Homo sapiens: one gene and its partners. The protein of the gene in region 2 interacts with the protein of the main gene of each other region in a pairwise test. Each region holds a gene or a part of one and is shown on either strand. Other genes may lie near its edges. The genes, in order: UBP1, ZNF184 and SOX6.

The links.
Region 1: the proteins of ZNF184 (region 2) and UBP1 interact in a two-hybrid assay, tested with the Homo sapiens proteins (one large-scale study listed by BioGRID and IntAct).
Region 3: the proteins of ZNF184 (region 2) and SOX6 interact in a two-hybrid assay, tested with the Homo sapiens proteins (one large-scale study listed by BioGRID and IntAct).

What each region holds. Positions count from the first base shown.
Region 1 is NC_000003.12:33,430,314-33,433,969, forward strand, and holds part of UBP1 (upstream-binding protein 1), read right to left. Parts: intron 1-3,656. UniProt on the Homo sapiens protein: Functions as a transcriptional activator in a promoter context-dependent manner. Modulates the placental expression of CYP11A1. Involved in regulation of the alpha-globin gene in erythroid cells.
Region 2 is NC_000006.12:27,456,048-27,459,703, forward strand, and holds part of ZNF184 (zinc finger protein 184), read right to left. Parts: intron 1,363-3,656; coding exon 1,236-1,362; intron 875-1,235; coding exon 779-874; intron 1-778. UniProt on the Homo sapiens protein: May be involved in transcriptional regulation.
Region 3 is NC_000011.10:16,045,462-16,049,117, forward strand, and holds part of SOX6 (transcription factor SOX-6), read right to left. Parts: intron 1,862-3,656; exon of another isoform or gene 1,777-1,861; intron 1,241-1,776; coding exon 1,053-1,240; intron 830-1,052; exon of another isoform or gene 787-829; intron 1-786. UniProt on the Homo sapiens protein: Transcription factor that plays a key role in several developmental processes, including neurogenesis, chondrocytes differentiation and cartilage formation.

The DNA of each region.
Region 1 (3,656 bases), on a different chromosome or scaffold from region 2:
ATGAGAACAACTAGATGCTCAGGGTAAGGGTGAAGGGAAAGTACTGGTTAGCTTCTCCAGCCTGGTCCGGGGAACCACTGACAGGTAGGGCTCCCAGGGGTCTGACAAGCAAGTGAAAAGACTTAGGCATCAAATTATTCCAAGTAATTCTGAAATGCCAGTACACCAAAATAACCAGGCATAAAAGGACAAACAAGACTCTAGAAGCAAAAACCAACAGCAAAAACAACAGATGACATATATCCAGTTCCAGATTTTGTCTGCTGGTATTCAGATCTTTTCTGCCTCTACTGCAGAAGGTTAGAAGCCTGAAAACTACATATAGAAGAATTCTTGCTAGACAGTCTTGTCAGGCTCTCCAAAGGCAAACACTGGCGGAAAATTGAAAGAGCGGGAAAGGGAAAAGCCAGATGCAAAAACAGGCAACCACACGGAATGCAGCTGCGGAAAATTTCAGGGGATCAGCAGCCATGCCTCCAGCAACAAGCCCAAGAACAACCAGGTAACATGGCCTCCTCCTCCAACCCTTCCAGCTCCTTTGCAATCAAATACTTCACTAAATCCCTCTCTGCTTGAGACATCTCACTGATTTCTATTTTCCTGACTGGACACAGACCACCAGAGATTTCAGATGCTGGAATTATCAGATCCAAATTATAAAATCGTACTTACTCTATTTAAAGAAATAAAAGAAAAGCCTGAAAGTATCTGGAAGGAACAGGAAACTTTAAAGGACAGCAAAACTGAAAAAGAGCAAAAAGAACTTCTAGAACTGGAAAATAAAACTGTCCAAATTAAGAACTCAGGTTTAATAGCAGCTCAGACAGAAGTGAAGACTGAATTAGGAGACTGGAATGCTGGAATATAGGTAAAAAGAAGTTATTCAGAAAGCAGCACAGAGAGGAAAATGAAGAAGTTAAGAAGGGACCAAGTGAGAAGATTTTGCATTAAATTCAAGTCTCAGCAAAGAACGGAATAGGGGCAAAAACTGAAGACAGGAAGGCTGAGCAAATTCTAGAACTGGTGAAATATACCAATTCATGGATTCAAGAAGCCCAAATGACCAAACCAGAATAAATAAGAAATACACACCTAAATACACCATAGAAAAACTCACAAGCCAGTACAGCATATGAAAGTTCCGCCGGGTGCAGTGGCTCACACCTGTAATCCCAGCACTTTGGGAGACTGAGGCGGGCGGATCATTACATCAGGAGTTCAAGACCAGCCTATCCAATATGGTGAAACCCTGTCTCTACTAAAAAACTACAAAAAAATTATCTGGGCATGGTGGCACACGTCTGTAGTCCCAGCTACTCAGGAGGCTGAAGCAGGAGAATTGCTTGAATCTGGAAGGCAGAGGTTGCAGTAAGCCAAGATTGCGCCACTGCACTCCAGCCTGGGCGACAGAGTGAGACTCCGTCTCAAAGAAAAAAAAAAAAAACGAAAAAAGACAGCTCCATTTTCCCAGTAAATAACTAAGGGAATCAGTTGAAAATAGGCATGGCAAGGATGAGTTGTGAGGCTGAGGAGGTGTCATTAAGCTTTCTAGATGAGTAGGGGAGGAAATGGATGAGAATGTTATGGTATAAACTACAGAGCAGCAGGAAAGACATACTTGACAGCCAAGGTCATGAACCAACCACTATTAACAAAATCTGAATACTCTCATATCCATTAAATAAATTACATGTATAGTCAAACATTTACTCATCCAAAGAAAGTTAAAACTGGCTGGGTGCAGTGGCTCACACCTGTAATCTCAACACTTTGGGAGGCCGAGACAGGCGGACTGCTTGAGCCCAGAGACCAGCCTGGGTAACATGGTGAAACCCCGTCTCTACAAAAAATAGCAAAAAAATTAGCCAGGCATGGTGGCGCATACTCATAAACTCAGCTACTAGGGAGGCAGAGGTAGGAGAATTACCTGAGCCTAGGAAGTCGAGGCTGCAGTGAGCCATGATTGCACCACTGCACTTCAGCCTGGGTAACACAGTGTGACCCTCTTCTGGCTAAGTTCTCTGTTTTGGCAAAGTTTTTTAATTTAAAAAAATTTTTTGGTTAAAACACAATGGTTTGTAATTGTTATTCTAAATAAATTTTTTAATGTTTTCAAATTTCTTGATACTTTCACATTATGAAGTTACTACAACATATACAGCATCCTATTTATATTTAGATAAATTGAGACAAAGTAGTAACTAAACAAATACAAGCAACTGTGGTCCTACTCTACTCAAAATCACTGCTAAAAATAAGAGATCCTTTCAAGGCTAAATAGCATTCACAAGTGTGTCTCATCTTTGCATTCCCCACCCACACCAAAAAATTACATGTTTCTAAAACAGTTTTAACCACTACACATCAGAAGTGTCAAAATCATAAAAGAAGGAAAAACTAAAAATTGTTACAGGACACAAAAACTAAATGCAATACAGAATCCTGGATTGGAATCTGAAAGGACAAAAGGGAGACAACTGTGAATTCCAAATAAATTTTGTAATTTAGATAACAGTATTGCACCAAGTCTAATTTCTTGATTTTGACAATAGTACTCTGGTTGTATAAGTAGGAGAAGCTGGGTGAAGGGTACATGTGAACTCTCCATACTACTTTTGTAACTTGAAAAATTTCAAAATGAAGAGTTTTAAGTTAAAAGTTCAACTATGAATACATGAATGAGTAATAACTAGTTTTGTCATAGTTCATATCAAGGCAACAATTTCACAATGTCCAAAAAACTCAGAGTTTTTTGTTTTTTTTTTGAGACGGAGTCTCACTCTGTCGCCCAGGCTGGAATGCAGTGGCGCGATCTCAGCTCACTGCAACCTCCACCTCCCGGGATCAAACGATTCTCCTGCCTCAGCCTCCTGAGTAGCTGGGATTACAGGTACATGCCACCATGCCTGGCTGATTTTTGTATTCTTAGTAGAGACGGGGTTTCACCAGGCTGGCCAGGCTGGTCACGAACTCCTGACCTCAAGAGATCCACCCACCTCAGTCTCCCAAATTGCTGGGATTACAGGTGTGAGCCACCGCGCACCCAGCCTTTAAAAAAAAAAAAAAAAAAAAAAAAGACTACCATAGGCCGGGCACCGTGGGAGTCCGAGGCGGGCAGATCACGAAGTCAGGAGCTCGAGACCAGCCTGACCAACAAGGTGAAACCCCACCTCTACTAAAAATACAAAAATCAGCTGGGCGTGGTGGCATGCACCTGTAATCCCAGCTACTCAGGAGGCTGAGGCAGGAGAATCACTTGAACCTGGGAGGTGGAGGTTGCGGTGAGCTGAGACAGTGCCACTGCACTCCAGCCTGGGTAACAGAACAAGACTCCACATCTCAAAAAAAAAAGACTCTACCACCAAAGGCTGACAATTTCATATTCATCTATTAGATCTGTCCCAAAACAAGCAAAGTAAATAATACAGAGCCTCCTTTCAATTCAGTCATGAAGCTGGGCACCATGTGGCCCACCTGTGGGTCCAGCTACTTGGGAGTTTGTGGCAGGAGAATCCCTTGAGCCCAGGAATTAGAGCCTGTAGTGTGCAGTGATCAAGTCTGCAAATAGCCACTGCACTCCAGCCTGGGCAACAAAGCAAGACCCTGTCTCTAAAAATAATAATAATAATAGTATCAGTCATAGAACCTACAGCTAA
Region 2 (3,656 bases):
AGGAGTTCAAGACCAGCCTGGGCAACATGGCGAAACCGTGTCTCCACTAAAAATACAAAAATTAGCCAGGCATGGTGGCGTGCACCTGTAGTTCCAGCTACTCGGGAGACTGAGGTGGGAGGATTACTCAAGCCTGGGAAGCAGAAGCTGCAGTGAGCCAAGATTACGCCACTGCACTACAGCCTGGGCAACAGAATGAGACTTTGTTTCAAAAAAAGAAAAAAAAAATCAGAAGCTATACATGTTACTAGGTAAGAATTAGGTGATAAAGAAACGAAGCCTGCAGTTATGGAATTCATTTTTGTTGAGTTTGCTTGGGAAAGAAAAGATAAACTGAATGGTGGCCATAAAGATTCATATTGTGGAGTAAATCTATTTGGAAATATAGGTTATGTATTTCTATTTAAAAGTACTGGGAATGGAGCCCGTAGATCCAAAATAAAAAATTGTAAGGACTGAAAAGTACGGTGATAATTATGAGATCATGGTCCTAAAGGAAGTAGAAAGAGATGTAATTCAGAGTCCAGTTCGAGAGGTGGATTTCATAGAAAGGTAGGAAGGACATCTCCTCAAAAAGGGGCATAACATAGAATATATATTGCAACAATTAGTGACATAACAAAGCATAAGAAAGTCCAGAAAACAGATGTTTTCCCATTTCTCCACAGGAAATACTTTAAAGGGAAGAAAGTACATCTACACTTCAGACATAAAATCCTCTCTTATCAGGCTGACAGTCGGAGTTAATGATATTCATCTGCTGGCATCCATGACTTACCTGCACAGGTACCTACTGGAATGCTTGGCTCCATGATCCATGGCTCTGTCCCTTGCTCTAACTGGGAAATCACATCAGGTTTAGAAACTTGGAGTCCTGTTCATTAGGGAAAAAAAGAAAGAAACCTGCAGTAAGGGGAAAGTACCATATCAGAATTCAATCACCACTTTGTCTTTAGAAGAAATGATATGTAGTAAAAACCTGATGGGAGTGGATAGCATATCAAGCTTTAGTGTTACCAGTTCCCAGACATGGTGGGAGTATAATTTGGGAACTGATCGGGGTTCAGGAAAATTATTATTTTGTCCCTCTGCTTGCTAGGATGGTAGAAACCTTTTCAAAAACTAGAAATTTAGAAATGGTTGGTTACTAAACTTAAAGGCAAACTCCCCTGAGCACAAGAGAGAACCCTCCTCCTGCACACCCCTTGATATTAACTCAGAGAAATTATCCTTACCTATAGAGACCAGGTGTGTATAATTTTCCAATGTCACATCCCTGAACAAATCTCTCTGGCCAGGGTCCAGCTGTTTCCATTCTTCCTGGGTAAAGTCCACTATCACATCCTTGAAAGTCACCGCTTCCTGAAATACCAAACATATTTCTGCTTAGCCATAAGCATTTACTTAGGAAAGGGGTAAAGTTAGCAATACTGACAGAAGTAAGGCAGTCTATAGGATGTCTGCAAAATAATCTTGACATTTTCTCCTTTATGAAATAAATGTAAAAACAGTGCCTCATCCATTGGGTTATTGTGAGAATTAAATAAAACATTCCATGTGAAATGCTTAATTTAACGTCTGGCATATAATAAGTGCTCAGTCAATATGGCCATTGTTGTTGTCCTTCATCGTCATCATTACCATCATCATCTCTGTGTTCCAAGGTCCGCTAAGTATTAATGGTTTAACTATTATCATCAATATTTTTTACTACCTACAATGTGCAAGAGCACCCAAAGGTTTTTTGAAAAAGAGAGGTGGAAAGACTTGCCCTAATACATTTCAAAAGATAAAGTAATTTAAAAATGGCCTAGTCTGGAATAAAACAAAATGAAATAAAATAGAAAATCCAGAAACAGATTCATATTTATAAGAGTTAAAAGGCATTAAGCAGCTTTCAAATTGGTTAAAAGTTAGTTAAATTAAAAGTAAGTTAAAAGTGAAATTAGTTAAGATGGATTAGTCACTAAATCATGCCATAACAAACGACTGTCTATGAAAAAAAAATTAAGGTGAGATCCTTACTTCACAACACACACAAAAATTCCTGCCAACCTAAAGATGAAATCGTAAAGAAAAAGTCAAAATAAAATAGAATAAAAAACAGGAAAATATTTGTATAAGCTTGAAATCTGGAAGGCAAAATTTACATGATGGAGAGAGAGATCGATAGATATAACCACATAACAATGTAAAACATCTATAAGACATCATAAACAAAAGGCAATTTAAAAAGCTTCTGCACAGTAAAAAAAAAAAAAAAAAAAAAAAAACAATCTACAGAGTTCAAGACAACCTGCAGAAGGGGCAAAAATATTTGCAAACTATTCATCTCACAAGGGACTAATATCCAGAATATACTCAAATCAACAGCAAAAAAATAAATAATACCATTAAAAAGTGGGTGAAGTATCTGAATAGGCATTTCTCAAAAGAAGACATATAAACACCCAAATATATGAAAAAATGCTCAATATCACTAAATGCAAATCAAAACCATAATAAGATATCATCTCACCCCAGTTAGTCAAAAAGACAAAAAAAAAAATAACAAATGCTGGCAAGGATACAACACTGGTGGGAATGTAAATTAGTACAACCATTATGGAAAACAGTTTGGCACTGTCTCAAAAAAACTAAATATGGAACTACCATATGATCCAGCAATCCCGCTAATGGGTATTTATCCAAAGTGAAGGAAATCAGTATACCAAAGAGACACATGCATCCCCATGTTTGCTATGGCTTTACTGACAACAGCTAAGATATAGAATCAACCTAAATGTCCATCAACAGACGAATGGATAAAGAAAATGTGGTATATATACACAAGGGAATACCATTCAGCCATTTTAAAAAAGAATAAAATCTTGTCATTAGTGGTAACATGGATGTACCTGCAGGACATTATGTTAAGTGAAATATGCCAGGCACAGAAAGATAAATATCGCATGTTCTCATTCACATGTAGGAGCAAACAAAAACAAAACGAGCTCATAGAGAGTAGAATTGTGCTTACTAGAGGCTGGGAAGGGTAGAGGAGGGAAGGCTAGGGAAAGACTGGCTAACAGTTACAAAGTTACAGGTAGATGGAAGGAATAAGTTCCAGTGTCTATAGCACTATAGCGTGAATATGGTTAACAATAATTTAGTGTATAATTACAAGAAAGTAGAAGAGAGGATTCGGAATATTCACAACACAAAGAAGTGATAAATGTTCAAGGTGATGGATATGCTAATTATCCTGATTTTATCATTACACATTGTATTCACGTACCAAAATATCACTCTGTATCCCATGGATATGTACAATTATTACATGTCAACTAAAAATTAAGGGAAAAAAAAAAGATCAACTACCCACAACAATAGCAACAATAAAGGCCAACAACCCAAATAGGCAAGTCACCGAGGAAAATGTGAAACCATGAAAAGATGCTCCCCTCCCCTAAAAATATAGTTAAACAGTAAAATATCAGACTGGGTAACACTGCTAAAGTGCTCATGTGTCCTATGGTGGAAACAGAACCCAAATGCAATCTATCTGGGGGGCAATCTGACAAGATCTATCAAAACTTTAATGGATACACCATTTGATCTGGTCTTCCTACTTCTAGGAATTTATTATTCAGAAACACTTCTAGGTACAAAGACAT
Region 3 (3,656 bases), on a different chromosome or scaffold from region 2:
GATCCTTTTATATGTAAATCAGATCATGTCAATGTCCTGGACAAAATCAGTCTAGGGATTCCCATCACACTCAGAATAAAATGAAAAGCCTTTCCAGGGTGTACCAGGTAATAATAAGCTCTGCCCAGCCTATCACTTTTACTTTATGATCCCCGGCTGTGTCGTCTCTTGTGCCATTCCTGCCACACTGGCCTCCTTGGTGCTGGTCTAATCCTCCAAGGGCCTGCATGTTCATCATTCCTAGTGCCTAGAATGCCCCTGCTCCTGCCTTTCATATGGCCTGGACTGTTGCTTCATTCAGATGTCAATGTCACTTCCTCAGAGAGTCCTTACCACTTCATCTAACATGCCAGCCCTATAACACCCTATTCCTTTAACTTGCTTCTATTTTTTCTCACGGCATTTATTGACTTCCTGCCATTACATTTTCTATTTAATTGTTTATTTCTTCATTGTCTGTGTTCTCCTATTAGAATATAAGCTCTAGGAAAGCAGGTGTCTTTGTCAGATTTGCTCACTGCTGTATCTCCAGCGCCTAGAACAGAGTCCATCATAGAATAAACAATAAATAATTTGCTGGATCAAAAACCAAATGAATGCAATTTGCAAATTGCTTTGTTTTGCTTCATTTTTTTGTCCTGGTTGACAGGAAGTTTAGTATTACATTTAATGGTGAGTCATGGTAACATATTAGTCTTCATTGTAAACACATATGTGTCTTCCTTTTTTAATATTCTGGTACTCTACTTTTATTCTAATAACATCATACATCTCCTTTATTTTAAGATACATCTATTTCAGAATGTGACAGAAAAACACCAATAGGCAGGTAGGTTGGGAGGCAACTTACACTGGGTGGGAAAGGGCGTATTTGTTAATCAACAATAATGCTTACAGATGCTACATGACAGATTTCAGTAAAGTACAAGACAGCCCTCAAGCTGGAAGCCCAAATCTATGGCTGCAGGTTGATACCTGGGAGCCTGGAAAGAACCAGATGAGAGTGAGCCAATAAGTCTAGCAGATCCAGTGACACAAGGAAGCAGTTTTACCTTTTCATTCCTGCAGCTGTTCAGCCCCATATTATTTATGGAGGACAGTTTCCCGTCAACACCATGTGGCTGTTGCTGCTGTTGCTCCCGCTGGATCTGCTCTCGCATCTTCCGCGCCTCCTGAATGGCTTTCATCACTGTATCCTGATCCCCAAAAAGGGCAGGGGAGTTGAGACTAGATAGGATATCTGCATACACAGGATGCATTATTAGATGCTTGTGAGGTCAGACTCCTAAAAAGTACTACTACTATCCCCTCCCCTGTAGAAAGCTGCATTCTCTGAACAAGGAAGGGGTGCACATTTGCTATTTTTTAAACTATACGCTAATATACATAGAACACAGAGCCAGGGCAACCAAGCTGTGCTGGGTTCTTTTAGCCCTTGGAGAAAACCCCAGCACTCCAGCCTACCTGGATTCTGTCTACTCACCTCCTCACAGACTACAGTTCCTAGACTCCAATTGTATACATATTGGGGGAAGGTATTTGCTCTGCCTGTATGTACAACTGGTGCACAATGTTGCCTCTTCTGTGGGGAAATTATGGGGAGGAAGGGGTTGAGGAGTGGGCAGGAGGCAGAGATGTTTGTCCAGGCTACCCATTATAGTTGCTGTGATAATACAACACAGTCATTTCTGGCCCGCAGAAAAAATAAAAAAATCTGTGAGGCCACATGTGTACTTTAGTGATATCTGTATCTGTGTGTTCATATGTCCACTGCAGGAAAGAGGGGGCGGAAGGAATTCACCGTACTCTCCAGTACCCCAGTTGCTGGCTGGTTAATGAAGCATTCTTCTCATCAAGCTGCCTCAGTTATTTACCAAGAGAATGACAACCCATTCCCCACCCCCAGCTCGAACACCCACTGTGATCAGCTCCCTCACTTCATGACAATGAGGCGATATGTGTGGGACTGGTTTTCGCATAACTACAAAGCTTCAAAAAAAAAGTGAGAATAAATATTTACTTCCAGTGTATTTCAAGCAACACAGAAGGAAAATCTTCAATATTAAACTGACTTATTTCCAACGATATCTTGCATTTTACTGTGGGTAAAATGAATACTTTGAATAAGATTTTCCAATTTTAGACAAAAAGAGGGCAATTTTTTGATGATAGGTTTCATCTGCTGTGACAAATGTTAGTGTGATCCACTTGCTTGAGGGCTCGTATAATCATTTCATAGCGTGTGTGTGTGTGTGTGTGTGTGTGTGTGTGTGTATGTGTGTGTATACACCTCACATAGGCAGGACAGAAGAAATGAGTGTAGAATCAAGCTCATACTGGATGTCTGATGTGTACAATGCATGTGCATATGCATTTGAGTTTGGAAAAAATTCCCAAGCTATACATGGAATTTTTTTTTTAAGTTAGTCACTTTTTGGTCCCACAGCTTTTATTTTGGAGCTTTTCTGGTAAAAAGGACATCTCTATCCAATATCACCTGGACGAGAGTGCTGTTCAAACACAGGTGCTATTACTTCAGCCCATTTCTAGCTCATGATCTAAGAAATATGCTCTGCTGAGTAGAGTTCCATAAAAGCAGGGCCTGTGACTCAGTCATCTCTGTCCCTCATGATACTCAGGACAGCAAACAAATGCTTTCCAAACAATTTCAGAGTGAATTCTAGGAGGGCTATTTCAAGGTCAACTCTATAATTTATCTCCTTGTTGGCTTTCTTCCCTCATCTCACAACTTCCAAAAATCCGGCCAAGGGGCATTCATATTCACATGCTGGAAATGATTTAATTCTATCTTCTATATGGATATCACTAACTTGGCATGAAAACTTTCAGGTCCCAAAAAGACATCCTTACTCAAAATGAGAATATGCTCCTGTAGAGATCCAATATTCCAAAATTCATTGAGGAAGATTAACATCTCACTATCAGAAGATTCACTTAGACTCAGCACAATTTAGCAAATATTCTAACTGTGAGTTTACAAAAAGAACACTTGAGTAACATGTGAGAGGACCTAGATTCTAGTCCTGTTTCTGCTAATTAACAGCTGCAGGAGTGTGGGCAACTCATTCTACCTGTAAAAACCACAATGTATGTATTTGTACAATAAGCATAATAATATACTATCTAACTCATAAGATTATTGTGAAACATCAAATCAGATAAAGTAGGCAAGAATGTTTTTTAAGCTGTTAATGGCTATTCTTATACATTATTTTATCTATTGAAATAAGCATTTTAGACTTCAGGACTCAATAATACAAGGAAGGTAATCTGAAGAAATGCTAGGTCTTGTCCCTTTAATCTTTAAATCTGTGTCTGTTTGGAAATTAAGTCTCTTAATTTCCAAAGAGTATAACAAATTAAGAGACTTAATTTCCAAACAAAGAGTATAGTAACAATAATGTTAATGCTTATTCGGCACTGTCTTACTGACAACTGCTTTCACATTTATTGTTTCATCCCACTTATATATGTACATGTATTGATAATCATTCATTCTAGTCATTTTAAATTGAATGCCTTCTAGGTTCTAAACTGCACTAGGCATTTAATATGCATTTTTCTGTTTTAATCCTCATAATAACCTATGAGCTAGTAATACTAGGAAACTGAACTTGAAAATATTAAATAACTTT